2 separate regions of the Homo sapiens genome follow, and region 2 is linked to region 1. Evidence: fine-mapped expression QTL. A gene starts in region 1. The other region holds a variant in brackets. All regions are shown on one strand. Distances are from middle to middle. Region 1 holds the start of ATXN2-AS (ATXN2 antisense RNA). Region 2 overlaps NAA25 (N-alpha-acetyltransferase 25, NatB auxiliary subunit).

Region 1 (5,369 bases):
AGGAAAGTGATTCAAATTCAAAGTAATTCTACAAGTACATTAACGATCTGTTCAAGAATAAAACTTCACATTACACAAATCCAACACAGTAAACAAAATTTCACCTATTCATCAGAAAGAATAAGGGCTGCCATTTAGGTCTCAAGTAAAAGAACTTAAAGCAAGGAAAAATCTAAATTAACCTTAAATTGTTGTAAAGCCTCAAGGAACAGAAAAAAGACCTTGTGGTACTAAAACATTCCAAATATCTTTGATCACTCAAACTACTCAGGAGCAAATTCTCTTATAATCTAATTTTTAAGCCTAGTAGTCAATGCAACTTAATAACCTTAGTTTTAATGTTTATATATTTGAACATGTTGAATTATCTGCCAAATCTCTTCCTAATACCTAAGAAAGTAAAAACAGAATACATCCTTTTCTATAAAAGTTGTATTTTAAATTTTTTCATTTTTCGCTAGATGCCAACGAAAAAGGGAAACTGAAGTTACCCTACTTGGGGAAACGATCACTTCATCTGAACTAGTTTGGCTAAGTAGTGTTTGGGATGCTTCAGACTCAGAGAAGGGGAAGGGGGGGCGGGGCGTGTAAAGTCAAATAACCGACTGTTTCCGCCCCCTTTGAAGGCAGCAGAATTCCTTAAAAACCAGCTGATTCCTCTTGATGGGGAATTTCTGCTGTAAATAAAAATTCTTTGGAAATGGGTTGCTGAAAATGTGTTTTCAAAAAGAAAACTCGGGTGAATGAAAAATCCTCTTATTCCACCTTCCAAAGCCCAAGATGCCTATTTAAGGAGGACGCCGGTCACCCGCCGTCAAGCCGGCGGCCTAGGCCTAAAGAAGGCACAGTAGTGCCTACAACACGGATGGACTTGAGGCACAAGGGAAATGGACTTGCGTGCCCTTGGTAAGCTCTGGCGGCACTCCCGAAGTTAAGGACACCGGCCACAATGGAATGGAGTCTATTGACGTTTCCTTCTCCCTTTGAACACTAAGCATTTTCTTAGTTCGTGAAATACGAACTGACAACCGCCCGCCACCCCCAACAGGCCCTCCTGCACAAACACACCCTCGAGTCAAACCCAGTTAGCCGGGACAACACTGAGCCCCCAGCCCCTACTACAACCCCGGCTTAGGAGGGAAAAAGACGCTAGTAAACACCCGCCTTTCTGCCTTCAGGAACCCGACCACGTCCCCTGCTGCAATCTCTCTCTCCTAGCATTTCCGAAATTGGGGCGGGGGTTGGGATAAGTGCGCAGGGTGCCCGCCCCCTGCCACCAGCACCGCCACCCCGGATCTCCAGGGTCCAGCCTGGGTCCAGCCCTCACCCACCGATGTTCCACAGGCGCCTTCTCCACTGCGGCCTCGAACAGCAATGCGGATCGGCCACCACCCGCGCGCCGGAGAGGTCTGGCGGGGGAAGGAGGAAGGCCGGGACGGGGCCGGGCACTCCCCACCCCTTCCCTTCCCCAGGTGGGGGAGGGTGGAACGCTGCCGGAGGCCACATGGAGCCCCACGATTTCAGGGGAGTTCGGGAGCCCCCGCCGCCGCCTCGGACACGAACGCAGAGGGGTGCGGGGGCCAAGGCCCACTTGTCTCCACCCCGTCCTCCGATCTTTCCCAGGACTCGGAGGGGGCGGGGAGAGAGCCCCGACAGACCCTGATGATTCCGGAGGAGCCCGGTGCCTACCCCTTTAACCGGCACGGGGGACGCGGCCCTAACTTCTCCCCTCCAGAGATGTCCCCCATGGAGGGGGACATGTTCCGGAAAACGCCACCACAGCCTCCAGACCCCTCCAACGTTCACACCTAAACCGGGAGTGGAGGAGCTGCCCGAGCATCCCCACGCTGCGGGCGGAGGATCGTGCGGAAGGGGGAGCCGGGGCTGACCATCGCCGCTACCCGAGAACCCCTCCCAACACGCGTGGGGAGGGGAGGCCGCCCGCTCCCTCCATCTTGACCGCCGGGGGAGGGGGCGGGGATGCTGCGGGAGGCTGGACAGGCCTGACAATCCCAGAGGACCCCGGCTGCGCCCACCGGCCGAGCCTCGGGGCTCAGGCCCGAGCGAGTCTCCCCCGCGCTGCCGGCCCCCAGCCCACCCCGGGTAGCCCGGCGGGTCACGGGGCGGGGACGGCGGCGCGGGCCGCGGGGGAGGGGACGCCGGGCCCGGAGCGGAGGGGGCTGGGGTGCCGACACCCACCTGCCCAGGCCGGGCCTCCCGCCGCCGGAGGTCGCCGCGACCACCGAGGAGGGAGCCGTGGCCGAGGACGAGGAGACCGAGGACGAGGACGGCGAAGGCGCGGCGGCGGGCGACGCTAGAAGGCCGCTGCCGCCGGGCTTGCGGACATTGGCAGCCGCGGGCGGCGGCTGCTGCTGCTGCTGCTGCTGCTGCTGTTGCTGCTGCTGCTGCTGCTGCTGCTGCTGCTGCTGCTGCTGGGGCTTCAGCGACATGGTGAGGGGCCCATACACCGGCTCGCACGCCGGGCGGGGACAGCCGGGAGCCGGGCGCGCCAAGGAGACGCCGGAACGCGGCGGGGACGCGCGGGCGCCGAGCGGGGAGGCGCGGGTTGGCGCGGCCGGAGGGGCGCCCGGGCTGGCGAGGGGGAGAAGGAGGACGACGAAGGGGCGGGGAGGCCCGCCGAGACCAAGGAGCCGCCGGGAGCCGGGCCGAAACGCGCCGCCGCCGTTGCCGTTGCTACCAAAACAGTCTGAGGCGGAGGGAGGCGAGCTCTGCCGGGAGGGAGGGGGGCCGGGGCCGGGCGGGGGAGGGGCGGCGGAGGGATACGGTCCCGGGGCCGCGCCACCGCCGCCCCGCCCGCTCCGCCGCGCCGGCCGCTGGAGCGAGCGCCACCCGGGCCACCTGGCTGCGGCGAAGCGGCGAGACTCGGTGGCCACCGCGGGACTCCGAGGAGCTGCGGCCGCTGAGCGCATCGGAGGGCGGGCGCGCCGAGGCGCCGGGTGGGAGCGGAGGTGCGGATAGGGACTCTTTACCGGAAGTCGGAGGGGTCAGACGGAAGCAGAACGTGAGGTGGCCCCGGGGCCGGGAGGGACACGTGAGGAGCGGGCGGCGCGCTGGGTTGCTTTCTCGGGGGTCGGGTGAGGGCCAGGCGGCGGTCCCTACCCGGATCCGCCTTCCTCAAGGCGGGTCTGCCCTTCGGGGAGGGCGTGTCGGTCTCAGCCTCTGGGGCCTGCCTGGTGTGGAGGACAGGAGAGAAGCATTTCTTCTCCTACTGTATTCCTTCAGCATCTTCACTTCTGCGGGGACCTAGTTTGCCCCCACCTGATGCAACCCAGAAAATGGACTGACTGCGAGTGCCTTGGGGCGGAGAATGTGTCTTGCTACGTGTAAAGCACCTAGAACCCTGCCAGATTCAGGGGACACAGCATCCTGCCGTTTTCCTGCCGTCCCCCGCCCGCCACACAGTAGGCGCTCCAGTGGCTCGGGGCATCTACCAGGCAGGCCGCGCTGTCCTGCCCTGCCGGGGCTGGAGTGGAGCAACCCTCCGGGGCCACCCACATCTGGGTACCTTTTCCCCACTTTTTCCACCCCAGCCGCGCACAGTCACCAGAAAACTCTTTTAGGTATCTGACCTTCATTTGAACCTATGTTCCCTCACTTGAACTTCTTTTTCCTCATTCATGAGATTCTAAAGGAAATATATGGGATTGGGACTGGTAGAACTACGGATAATGGGATCTCCCTCGGTAGAGACAGAGCCGACCTCAAAACAATGTGCGAACTTTAGACCTTGGACCCTTTAGAAGTTTTAATTTAACTTACCCAGCCAGCACAGTAGACTCTTTTTAAAATGTGTTGCAGTTAAACTGGAAGCAAGTAGAAAGTAGGTAACTTTTTTTTTTTTTTTTGAGCAGTGAATCTATTGTTTTTTAAAGTGAAATGACTTCAGGAAATAATAGGGGAAGAAACACCAAAATTCCCCTCAATGTCCTAGAACTGTCCAGATAAAGGTAAAGACTTAGATAAACGTGGAGAATGATTGAACCAGCAGTTTTCAGTAGTCCAACTGAAATTAACCTCCTAGATAGTCCAGGCAAAAATGATCATTGTATTCTGCCAATGTAGGAAATCAGTTTTATTTCCCATCTAAGGTAAAAAGTAGATCAAGGGACCATTGCAAAACCCTTTAAAAATTAACCTAGCCTAGCCAACATGGTGAAACCCCGTCTCTACCAAAAATATAAAAATTAGCCGGGTGTGGTGGTGGGCGCCTGTAATCCCAGCTACTCGGGAGGCTGATACAGGAGAATTGCTTGAATCCGGGAGGTGGAGGTTGCAGTCAGCCGAGATCATGCACTCCAGCCTGGGCGACAGAGCGAGACTCCGTCTCAAAAAATAAATAAATAAATAAATAAATAAAGTAACCTAAAGGAAACTGGAACTAAAAAACCAGTTGAAACAAAAAAATACCTGTACCCGGCTGTGGTACAGGCCAGGGCTGCTGTGAGGGGAAGCTCCTGGAGAGGGTGACATGGGGCAGGGACCCAAATGAGCATGGGCATGAGGATCCTGGGGAGAAACGCTCCAGGTGGAGGGCACAGCGAGGGCAAAGGCTCTGAGGGGGGAGTCTGAGGAACAGCAAGGAGGCCTGCAATGGAGCAGGTCGTCAATGGTGTCCCGTTATATTCTTTCTTTAATAGAAATACAAACACTTGGCCTGGCGCGGTGGCTCACACCTGTAATCCCAGCACTCTGGGAGGCCGAGGCGGATGGATCACCTGAGGTCAGGAGTTCAAGACCAGCGTGGCCAACATGGTGAAACCCCATCGCTACTAAAAATACGAAAAAATTAGCTGGGCGTGGTGGTGGGCATCTGTGATCTCAGCTACGCAGGATGCTGAGGCAGGAGAATCGCTTGAACCCAGGAGGCGGAGGTTACAGTGACCAAAGAGGGCACCACTGCACTCCAGCCTGGGCAACAAGAGCGAAACTTTATCTAAAAAAAATAAAAATAAAAAAATACAATCACTTTTCTCTGATTGGAATCAAGGTCCCAGAATACAATCTTAAGAACAAGTTTTGGCCAGTGTGGTGGCTCACGCCTGTAATCCCAGCACTTTGGGAGGCAGTGGCCGGTGGATCACCTGAGGTCAGGAGTTCGAGACCAGCCTGGCCAATTTTTAGTAGAGCCCATCTCTACTAAAAATACAAAAATTAGCTGGGTGTGGTGATGCGCACCTGTAGTCCCAGCTACTTGGGAGGCTGAGGCAGGAGAATGGTGTGAACCTGGGAGGCGGTGCTTGCAGTGAGCGGAGATCACACCACTGCACTCCAGCCTGGGCGACAGAGCGAGACTCCGTCTCAAAAAAAAAATAGTAAGTTTCAGGTCGATGGAAGTTGAATAAGAAGGC
Region 2 (5,369 bases), 490 kb after region 1:
ACCAGCCTGGCCAGCATGGTGAAACCCCATCTCTACTATAAATACAAAAAATTAGCTGGGCTTAGTGGCGCGTGCCTGTAGTCCCAGCTACTCGGGAGGCTGAGACAGGAGGATCTCCTCTTGAACCTGGGAGGTGGAGGTTGCAGTGAGCCAAGATCACACCACTGCACTCCAGCCTGGAGACAGAGCGAGACTCCATATCAAATAAATAAATAAATAAAAATTAGCCAGGTGCAGTGGCTCACGCCTGTAATCCCAATATTTTGGGAGGCTGAGGCAGGTAGATCACTCGAGGTCAGGAGTTCGAGACCAGCCCGGCCAACATGGTGAAACCCCATCTCTATTAAAAATACAAAAATTAGGTGGGTGCAGTGGCTCACGCCTGTAATCCCAGCACTTTGGGAGGCTGAGGCAGGTGGGTCAAGAGGTGAGGAGTTCGAGACCAGCCTGACCAACATGGTGAAACCCCATCTCTACTAAAAATATAAAAATTAGCTAGGCATGGTGGTGTGCACCTGTAATCCCAGCTATTCAGGAGGCTGAGGCAGGAGAATCGCTTGAACCCAGGAGGCGGAGGTTGCAGTGAGCCAAGATCACACCACTGCACTCCAGCCTGGGCGACAGAGCAAGACTATATCACACACACAAAAAAATTAGCCAAGTGTGGTGGCAGGCACCTGCAATCCCAGCTACTCGGGAGGCAGAGGCAGGAGAATCTCTTGAACCTGGGAGGCAGAGTTTGCAGTAAGCTGAGATCACGCCACAGCACTCCAGCCTGGGTGACAGAGAGAGTCTGTCTATCTCAAAAAAAGAAAAAGAAAAAAGAAAGAAAAGAAGTATATCTTTTTTGAGGACAACATGAGAAGAATGGGAAGAGAAGGTCATTTTACAACCTGCTTGTCTCAATTAACATATACTAGGAACATCTTTATATGTCAACCATATAAAGACACCCAGTATTATTTGGAGAGATGTGGGAATGTATTTTATGTACCATAGGGATGAACTATAACTTCTTTTACTCTATCCTTATGAATGAATATTTAATATACTTTGCTTAAAACATAATCTTACAAATAAAAATGATATTAAGGATTTATATGTATATATGTTAGCATTGCCAATTTTAAAAAATATACCCATTTTATGGCTGGGCACAGTGGCTCACGCCTGTAATCCCAGCATTTTGGGAGGCAGAGGCGAGCGGATCATGAGGTCAGGAGTTCGAGACCAGCCTGGCCAACATGGTGAAACCCCGTCTCTACTAAAAATACAAAAATTAGCCGGGTGTGGTGACATGTGCCTGTAGTCCCAGTACTTGAGAGGCTGAGGCAGAAGAATCGCTTGAACCCGGGAGGTGGAGGTTGCAGTGAGACGAGATCATACCACTGGATTCCACCCTGGGTGACAGAGTGAGACTGTCTCAAAAAAAAAAAAAAAAAAAAAAAAAAAAAAAAAAAAAATATATATATATATATATATATACACACACACACACACACACACACACACACCCATAACCATTTTACATTTTTAAAAATTATAATGTCTAAATACCTTTCAGTAAATAAATTAACAAAATGTTATTAAATAATTACATTGGGACCCCTCAAAAAATTTCTCCAGCTGGGCGCACTGGCTCACATCTGTAATCCCAGCATTTTGGGAGCCCAAGGTGGGTGGATCACTTGAGGTGAGGAATTTGAGACCAGCCTGGCCAACATGGTAAAACCTCGCCTCTACTAAAAACACAAAAATTAGCCAGGTATGGTGGTGTGTACCTGTAATCCCAGCTACTCGGGAGGCTGAGGCAGGAGAATCGCTTCAACCTGGGAGGCCAGGTTGCAGTGAGCCGAGATCGTGCCACTGCACTCCAGCCTGGGCAACAGAGCAAGACTCCATCACAAAAAAGAAAAAAGAAGAAAAAAACTTCTCCTATGTTAAAACTTGCATAAACTTAAAATATAGAGACTGATTTTAAGAAAGAGTTTATATTAATATAGTATCTGCCACCCTGCCCAAATTATCTATTGTTATAACTTGATATTTAATGTAAAGAATAAGATAAAAATCCAAAAAATTTTGCCTTCAGAAGATATTATACCCACAAAGAAAGCATTTCTAAAAAAGTACTAGCTTGGGCTGGGTGTGGTGGCTCATGCCTGTAATCCCACCACTTTGAGAGGCCGAGGCGGGCAGATCACCTGAGGTCGGGAGTTTGAGACCAGCCTGACCAACATGGAGAAACCCTGTCTCTATTAAAAATACAAAATTAGCCAGGAGTGGTGGCGCAAGCATGTAATCCCAACTACTCAGGAGGCTGAGG[C/CAGG]AGAATAGCTTGAACCCAGGAGGCAGAGGTTGCAGTGAGCCAAGATCGCACCATTGCACTCCAGCCTGGGCAACAACAGCAAAACTCCATCTCCAAAAAAAAAAAAAAAAAAAAATACTAGCTTAACATCAGAGCCATTTATGGAATTAATAATGCTGATTATATTTCTCTGAGATGTTAGCTTTACCCGCAACCTAATTCAAATGTGTTCAAATGAGGCTCCTTCAGATGTATGTAAAGAATATCTACAATATGGTAGCTGCCAAATAAGCTGCCTCAAACCAAAAAACAAAAAACAAAAAATAAATTTAAAAAGAAACATCCCAGGCAACAAGGATTTTCCCCCTGGTGGACTTAAAAATCTTAGCAGGCTATCAACAGTTTAAATTTACAAATTAGATGTAAACTTTAAAGTTACTCTTTCCATAGTTGTTCATTTTTTGCTCTGGTATATCTGCTCATTTTCTGAAAATTTAACAGCAATCTGATGCAGTAGGACAATCTGAAGCTGAATTACCAAAACCAAACAAAACATAACATCAGGCCACAAAAGAACAATCAACTTATTTCCAAATAAAACATTTAAAGATCTTGAATAATAGTTCAACTTTAAACACATAAGGAAAACAACTGACTGACCTCCACACAGAAAAATCCATAAATTCAATTCTACACACACACATACCCAGTGCAGTTAAATCACAAGAAAGAGACTTTTGCCTCTAATAGTAAATCCCATAGCCCAGTAGGTTTGGGGATCAAATTACCTGTTGCATTTTCTTGTATTCACCCACTCTGGCATAGGCCATGAAGAGGTGAGAGTGATACTCCTCACTATTGGGAACTTTCTTCACAGCTGCCTCATAAAGTTTTGTAACTAACTCCGCTAAGATAAAGAGAAATAAGATTTAAGTTATACTTCAAGAACATTCTAATGGCATTTAATGTTCTTCCTATTTGGCAGAAATAGATGTCTCCTATCATTATAGAAGAAGTATCTGCTTTGCCTCATCCAATCATCATTCATCTCTTGGTTAGGTGGTGTTTAAATGAAGCATGGAATAGGTCAAGCCTTCTCATAGCATTTACAACATATAAGACCTTATAGGATCTGGCCTCTGTCTCCTCTTTCCCTCAGCACTTTATCATGTAGCCACAAACTATTTGTAGTTCCACCAGATTCTCTGGGATGTATCATACATAACTCTATGCCTCTAAACTCTTCGCTCTGCCTGAATTCTCCTTTTCTCTCTTTTATCTTAGTGAACATCAGCCAAGACCCAATTCAAATGTAAGCTGAACTGTAAGACTTTCTCTGAACACCATCTCTGCTTCTCCACTGCAATTTGACCACTGCCTCCCTCTGCCATCTTGGAATCTTATATAAGTAAGTATATTGTAGTTTTTTTTTTTTTTTTTTTTTTTTTTGGAGATAGGTTCTCACTCTGTCGCCCAGGCTGGAGTGCAATGGCACAATCACGGCTCACTGCAGCCTCGACCTTTCAAGCTCAGGTAATTCTCCGACCTCAGCCTCCCAAGTAGCTGTTCTGCAGGCACATACCACCACAACTGGCTTATTTTTTATATAGACAGTGTTTCGCCATGTTGCCCAGGCTGTACTATAGCATTTATTAACACATAATGTAGTATACTGTCTAGTGATCTATTTCCCCTTATAGACAATGAGTGCCATGACAACAGAAAGTGCTTTTTTTTTTTTTTTGGAGACAGAGTTTTGCTCGTTACCCAGGCTGGATTGCAATGGTGCGATCTCGGCTCACTGAAACCTCTGCCTCCTGGGTTCGAGTGATTCTCCTGCCTCAGCCTCCCAAGTAACTGGGATTACAGGCATGCATCACCACACCCGGCTAATTTTGCATTTTTAGTAGAGATGGGGTTTCTCCATGTTGGTCAGGCTAGTCTCGAACTCCCGACCTCAGGTAATCCACCCACCTCAGCCTCCCAAAGTGCTGGGATTACAGGCGTGAGCCACTGCGCCCGGCTGAAAGTGCATTTTTTATCTTTGACTCTGATAGAATACCAGTCATAGAGAAACATGCCACCAATATTTGTGGAGTAAATGATTTTTTTTAAAACACTGGAGAAGAATCCATATCCCTAAATCAACACAATCTGTAAATACTCAGATATAATACCTCAACTCTTAGGTTTTATCTTTTGTAAAAATTAAAAACAAAATTGAAGCTGAGCACAGTGCCTCGTGCCTATAATCCCAGCACTTTGGGAGGCTGAGGCAGGCGGATTGCTTGAGCCTAAGAGTCCAAACTAGCCTGGACAACACAGCAAAATCCTGTCTCAAAAGAAATTGGCAAAAATGATTAAGGTTACAAATACCAAATGTTACAATCTGAGCTATTTGAATGAATGAAGAGAGAAAGAATACCAAGTGTTGACAAGCATGTAAGCAATCAGAACTCAAAAACTGCTATTCTATTTATAAAAGAAGTTGACATTATCTTGCTTTAAGCTAAACATACACTTACCCCATGACTTGAAAATTCTACTCCTAGATATTGTAATGTAACCCAGTGAAATATTTTGTGGTAGTGAAAATGGATTAACTATAGCCACTTGGCTATTAGATGAAAAATGCAAGTCATAGAATATACATAGTACAGATGCACTAACAAAAGTTTAAAATTAAGCAAAACTAATAATGTATTACTAAGAGAAATAAATGTAATAAACATTTAAAGGGAAGCAAGAGAATAAAAAATATTCAGGATAGCGAGTAACTCTTGGTAGGTAAAAGGAGAATTAAGATTGATTGAGGAGGCCAGGTGCACTTGGCTCACGGCTGTAATCCCAGCTCTTTGGGAGGCCAAGGCAAGTGGATCACTTGAGGTAAGGAGTTTGAGACCAGCCCGGCCAACATGGTGAAACCCGTCTCTACTAAAAATACAAAAATTAGCTGGGGATGGTGGTGCATGCCTGTAATCCCAGCTACCTGGGAAGCCGAGGCAGGAGAGGATGCATGAACTCAGAAGGTGGAAGTTTCGATTCTCCTGCCTCAGCTTCCCAA

Evidence for each region. PIP is the estimated chance that this variant, and not a neighbour inherited with it, causes the effect.
Region 2: its variant is the best candidate, but not a certain one, in a credible set for the expression of ATXN2-AS in caudate (GTEx, PIP 0.67).

The regions. Positions count from the first base shown.
Region 1 is chr12:111,596,585-111,601,953 of GRCh38, forward strand. It overlaps ATXN2-AS (ATXN2 antisense RNA), which reads left to right and starts at 2,914. Exons shown (of 2, transcript NR_146497.1): 1 at 2,914-2,969; 2 at 3,244-3,671. It overlaps ATXN2 (ataxin 2), which reads right to left and starts at 2,731. Exons shown (of 25, transcript NM_001372574.1): 1 at 2,200-2,731. The coding sequence starts at 2,450. RefSeq lists silencers at 1,376-1,505, 2,096-2,145, 2,236-2,405, 2,466-2,775 and an enhancer at 3,236-3,465.
Region 2 is chr12:112,084,590-112,089,958 of GRCh38, forward strand. It overlaps NAA25 (N-alpha-acetyltransferase 25, NatB auxiliary subunit), which reads right to left. Exons shown (of 24, transcript NM_024953.4): 4 at 3,094-3,212. Among named protein-coding and RNA genes, the nearest start is that of NAA25, 22 kb to the right of the region's middle. The variant C/CAGG (reference allele first, on the strand shown) is at 2,327.